2 separate regions of the Homo sapiens genome follow, and region 1 is linked to region 2. The links come from fine-mapping of genetic effects on gene expression. A gene starts in region 2. The other region holds a variant in brackets. All regions are shown on one strand. Distances are between the middles of the regions.

The links. PIP is the estimated chance that this variant, and not a neighbour inherited with it, causes the effect. A credible set is the group of variants that fine-mapping cannot tell apart.
Region 1: its variant is the best candidate, but not a certain one, in a credible set for the expression of PAQR5 in testis (GTEx, PIP 0.88).

What each region holds. Positions count from the first base shown.
Region 1 is chr15:69,379,249-69,382,149 of GRCh38, forward strand. It overlaps PAQR5 (progestin and adipoQ receptor family member 5), which reads left to right. Exons shown (of 9, transcript NM_017705.4): 4 at 635-762. Among named protein-coding and RNA genes, the nearest start is that of KIF23, 34 kb to the right of the region's middle. RefSeq lists a silencer at 2,241-2,422. The variant A/G (reference allele first, on the strand shown) is at 1,273.
Region 2 is chr15:69,297,302-69,300,150 of GRCh38, forward strand. It overlaps PAQR5 (progestin and adipoQ receptor family member 5), which reads left to right and starts at 1,611. Exons shown (of 9, transcript NM_017705.4): 1 at 1,611-1,755. It overlaps PAQR5-DT (PAQR5 divergent transcript), which reads right to left and starts at 1,462. Exons shown (of 3, transcript NR_184010.1): 1 at 1,177-1,462.

The sequences.
Region 1 (2,901 bases), 82 kb after region 2:
CTGACCAGTCCGGGTTTCTCAGTGGGTGTTTTTTGGGGGGGACTTGCCAAATGGGCTGCATGGGGGTGGGGGTGACTTGAGCAGCCGTGCTGTGGGCAGCCACCTCCTCTTCCTGCAGCCCAGGCATCAGCATCGTGGTCCTCATCATCAAAAGCCCTTTATGAAGCACCTTGGTGAATATATCCTGGCACCGGGGGCATCTTCTGCAGAGTTCTTCCCACCAGCCCCTGACATGCAGGGCTTGCCAGCTCAGACAGACAGCATCTGTGTCAGCTCACCAAAAAGGCGTCCAAAAACTGGGCTGTAGGCCCCAGGCAGAGGGGTGAGAAAACGGATTCTTAGGCAAGATTCATGCCAAGAGTAAGTACGCCGGGGAATGCAAAGACAGGCTGGATTCCCAAAGGGAGCCTGGCCCTTGAATTCCCTCCCCCAGCTAGCTGGAGGCTTCTTGGAGGACAAGGGATTTTAGAAGCTACTGCGAGGGAAGGAGAGAGTGAGGGGAACAGCTTAACAGGTTAAGGACTTGGGGTCAAGCGTTCCAGGCACACAGAGCACGGCCTGGAAGATGTTTCTCCAGAGACCTTCGTGCCACCCTCTGGTCTCACCTCAGTGTCCTTTTCCTTTGCCTCTGCAGGTGTTCCATGAGCAAGGCATCCTGTTCGGCTACCGCCATCCACAGAGTTCTGCCACTGCCTGCATCCTCAGCCTTTTCCAAATGACCAATGAGACTCTCAACATTTGGACTCACTTGCTGCCCTTCTGGTACCTTCTGGCCCCCTCGACCGGCCTGTCTCCTTCAGGAGCCCTGGAGACCAGGGTGTCTTAAAACATGGCTAGTGTTGAGAGGGCTGAGATTCTGTGCTGGGGTTTGGGGATCCCCCGTGGGTACACGCGGGTGAAGGGAGTGTGTGACAGAGGGAAGAGACATTGGGTGTGCCACTGGGATGACCTTTAAGGCATGGACTGGGGTAAGATTTGAGGGGAAATCCCAAAAGTGCCTCAGTCCTTCCTGCTCCCTGCTCCGGTGCCTGATATGATAGCATTTACCTTCATCTCCGGTCTTGGAGACTTTCCAGGTCTTCCAGGAGCCCTGGTTAAAATGTCACTAGTTTGAGCAAGTCAACCTCTCTGAGCCTCTCATTTTCCTACCTGCAAAGCAGGAGTGATGGTCCGCACCTCCCCAAGGGTTGCTGTGAGGGTTTGGGGAGAAAACATTGGTAGAGGCATCTGCCACAGAGTTGTGGGTGTTCCGTAATCATTCTGGGAACCACG[A/G]CAACTGGGAGGCACTTGGTCAGGCAGCCTGTAGATGGAGCCAGCTAAGAGCAAAGCTCTGGGAAGCCTGTATGCAGAAATGGAAGTGGCCAGGGAAGCGAAGAGGGGCCTTGCTGAGAAAGGTGGGGGATGAAGGCCAATGTCACACACTGCACACCTTTGCTTAAGGAATGGAGGATGGAGACAGGGTCAAAGCACCAAATCACAGTGGATCTGAGCTGGAAGAACTCAGAGGCCATTCAAGCCACTGTCCCACTCAGACCACCACTGGTCGATGTAGACACAGCCGAGAGACGGGGTGGCGTCCTTACGTCATGCAGGGGCGCCGTGGCACAGGCTGGTCACTGGACTCCCTCCAGTCATGTTGAGAAGAGATGAGGAGTGTGCCATGAGTGGAGATGGGCCCAGGCTCCCCGCACAGGGGCAGCCAGCCTGAGTAGAAGTCAGATGACAGACCCGGGGCCAAAATGCAGGGGCAGGCTGTTTGGTTCCAGCAGCCAGCTCAGTGGAGAGGGGAGAGAGCTCAGTCTGGTGTGGACTAGGGTGATCTGTAAAGGAGTGTGGCAGCCCTGGGCCTGCGGACTGGGCAGGGGTGGCAGCACAGCCCTGCTCCAGGGGCCATTTGTCATTTTTAAAAGTATACATGCTTACAAATTATAACCCTTCAGAAGGGAATAGAGTCAGGCTCTGCCACTGGCCCCAGTTCTCCTCCCTGGAGTGGCCAGGGGGACCTGCTTCCTATGCGTCCTCCTGGAGCTTTTCTGGGGGACCCAGGAGCATCTGTGCTGTGAGCATCCACAGCATCTGCCTCTTTCCCTGCTGCCTTCCTCTTACTTCCCTCCCTTGGAGATCTCACTCTGTCAGCATCTGCAATCTGCATGTCTCCTGGACTTTGGAACATCTGCTTGGTGTTCCATTTTCTGGATGAATCATGGTTGATTTAGGCTGTTTTGAGATTTGAGCTGCTAAAAGGGTACCAGCCTGTCCATCCCTGCTTGTGGGTCTTGCACTCCATGCATGGATCCCTGTAGGGTGATTTTTTGCTATGTTACAGCTGAGCCAAGCTGGGTGAGCCGCACCCCCATCACCTCCAGCACTGCCTATGCACTTCTACACGGTGCCAGGCTCTCAGAGATGATCCTGACTGAGCAACAGAGAGTAGCAGGAAGGACTTGGGGAGGTCTGGATCAAGATGCCCTAAGGAAATGGGACCACTGAAAAATTGAAATAACTGAAGGATACATTTTGAGAAACAGCAAATAGCTTAAGCTTTACTTCCCGCTGGGACAAAATTAAAAAGTCCACAAGTGTAGCTGGAAGGATTTAGCAATGTTCCTTCAGCTCCTGCATATGAAAAGCTTTGTAGAGTCTCCTCCCTTGGAGGAGTTAGTGAGAAAGGGAGCCAGCTCTCTAGGAGTGATTTGTGGAAGCGAGGTGCTCTGCAGGCGGGACCTCATGCGTGGATTGTAGGCCAGGCAGACCTGGTGAAGAATTTTGAAGTGTCTCTGCATAGAGATCTAGGCTCTGCTAAGAGTCAGCTGTGGGACTAGCTATTCCGAAAAGTGATTGTACTCTTAGTGGAGGAACAGTGTGGAGGAGGAGGGAGAAAATAGTTCTCTTGGCCTCGGC
Region 2 (2,849 bases):
TCTTCCCTCTTTAGTTTCTTCAAGGTGCACACACAGATACCTACAGCAGGCAGGAATCCAGGTGGGGCACCAGGCATCTCTGCTCACCTTGGCTGCTGGTGGTGGGGTGCCTGCCTGTGCTGTGCATGCTGCAGCTTTGGCAGGGTGGCCAATCAGTCCAGTGCCAGCCTTTGCCTCCCAGAGAATGCTTCACACCCTATTCTTCCCCCAAACCCATCACTGGCCCAGACATCAAAAGCACACATCCCTGTGCTATTCCCCTTCAAAGAGCTTCATATCTAATATCTCACTGAGTCCCCCGACTAGCCTTGGAAAGGCAAAGCAGGGATTATTAATCTCCATTTTGTAGATGGTGAGGGTCTTGTCCAAGGCTACTCTGAATTCAGCATAGAGCTGGGACTGGGCTCCACTCTTGTGTCCAGTCATTCTTGTCAAACTCTGGTCTGTGGAATATACATGCCTGCCTCTGTGTAGGCCCCAGTCTCTTTCCCTTTAAGAACTTGGGTCTGAGAGGACAAGCGCATGTCGCACGCACACACACACGCACATGCATACACACCCTTACAAGATGCACAGCCACCAAAAAGCCTAATAAAGCAAGGTGCCCAAGACCACGGTTCAGGATCCGTAAAAATGGCCGGAGATAATTGACTGCAACCTATTCACTGCAAATGGGGCAACTTGGGCCCACAAAGGGCCAGAGACTTGACCCGAGTCACAGAGTAGACTAGAGCCCAGGTCTCTGGACTCCCAGTCCTGTGCTCTCTCCACTGTGTGTGCCCTCAGCAAACAAGGCAAGGCAGGGAGGAGCAGGAGCTCAGAGAGCCTGGGGCTGAAGGGTGGGAGGAAAGAGCCTGGTGGGGGACTTCGGTCCACAGGTGTGGATGTTCCAACCTTTCTCTGGCAGGGTCGGGGTGGGGGCACCAGGTAGCTGCAACCTGTTCCTTCAGCACCTGGGAGGAGACACAGAGTCTGGTTCCCTGAAGCCAAATGTTTCTTCTTTGTCCTCTGTGTCCCTTCATCTCTTATAGCTGTGTCCACTGAGTGGCAGAGGTCCAGGCCCAGCGCCTTCCAGTCTAGGAGCCTGTGACCTGGGACAGGATCCCTGGGGAAAGGGTGAGGGCTGGCAAAGGGCCCGCCACCCTGAGCACTCCAAGAGACAGGGGTGGAACTCACTTCAAGGATTCAGGGCGGCGAGGATCCTCTCCCACCGGCGAAGCGGACACCGCGGTGGGGCTGCGAGTACCCAGTTGTTGTTTTTTTCTCCTTCCCTGTTCTCCACCCCATGCACTTTTCCGAGGGGCAAGCTCCGCAGTTCTCCCATCAAGGAGGCTCTCCAGGCTCCCTGCCGGCCTTCGGCTCCTGGGGTGGAGGTGGGCGTGGGGTACATGGGCCCTAGGAGAATGGGGTGTGAGAGACTCCCCTGGGCTTATGGCTTTGGTGGCACCTCAGGCTGTGGAATGGGGTGGCGAGTCTTTGGAAGTCACAGAGCCCAGGGTCGGTGGCACGTGATGAGGCGCAGGCCTGGCTCAGGGGGTGGTGCCCACGGCCCTCGGCTCCTCCCCCGGGGCCGCCCCGCCCCGCGCGGGAGGGGACGGGCGGGGACCGGCATGGGTAGGCGCGGCGACCCGCAGGGCCAGGTGCAGGGCCCGCGAGTCCGGGGTCGCCGCAGCCCGGGAGGAGTGTCTGGTCTCCGGCCTGCCTGTGCTGTCCCCGCGCCCTGTCCACTGGACTCCCGAGACCCTTGGAACCCAGGTAACCCGGGGCGGGACTCCCCGCCGCGCGCCGCCTCCCCACCTCCCGGTCCACGCGCACCCGCCCTCCGCGGCAGCCCCAGCCGCCCTGCGCCCGTGGAGCCCGTTGAGCCTGGGTGGCCGCTCCGAGGGCGGGTCTGGGAAAGTTTGTGCCGGGGCGGCCCTGATCCGGCGGCGGCGCGGCTCGGCCACTTTCACCGCACGCGGGGCCGGTGTGAAGGTGGGGCGGCCGCCGCCGTGCAGAAGGCTCTCTGCTGCAATCGAGGGCGGTGAGGGGAGCTGTTGCCTTCTCGCACCTTTTCTCTCACTCTCCAGGGCGTTTGCGCCGCTTATCCTTCCTCCACCGCCCCCCTCCCGCCGCCCCCACTTTAATAAAACCCTTGGATTGGGGCTGCACAGTTGGCGATTTCTTTACACCTGTGCTTCCCGCCTCCTGAGCCCAGATGTGAGCCTGGGCTGAGCAGGACCGTGTGGGTGAGGGGCGGCCCACTGCCTGCGGGGGTCGTCCCGGCCCTGTTGAAGTGGGTGCCCAGCTACAGGGAGTTCCCCCTGCTCTGTCATTGGCCTCCCCCCGGCCACAGCCCCCAGCTGGGCATCTCCTGGCTCCCCTAGCACTTCCCAAGTCCTAGTCGGATGAGCCCAGGAGAGGGGGTGGACCCCGGCCCAGCAGAACAAGAACTCAGGAGCCCGGTAACTCTTATCCGTGAGCAGAACCGGCTTCCTCCCGCTTAGGTTGGGAGGAGGGCTCAGCTTAGTGGGAGTCGGGGGTGACAACTGCCCCTTCCCACGCAGAGCCATAGAGAAGAGATGGGGAGAGGTCAGGGGATCTGAGAAGAGCTAGCAGCCAAAAAGGGACACATCCCTGATTTCATTTGAACCTAACAAACCAATGGCGAGTAGATATTAACACATGGGCAGATGAGAAGACAAGGAGGCCCAACAAAGCTCAGCCATTTGCTGGAGAAACTGGTGGGCTTTTCTCCACCACTGAGTGGCGGGTTTCCCACCGCATCCTTCCAGAGCTGCATGGTCGCTTCTGCATTCTTGCAGTGCCCTTGACTCAGCAGAGGTTTGTTTCTTTTACCCCACTCCCCA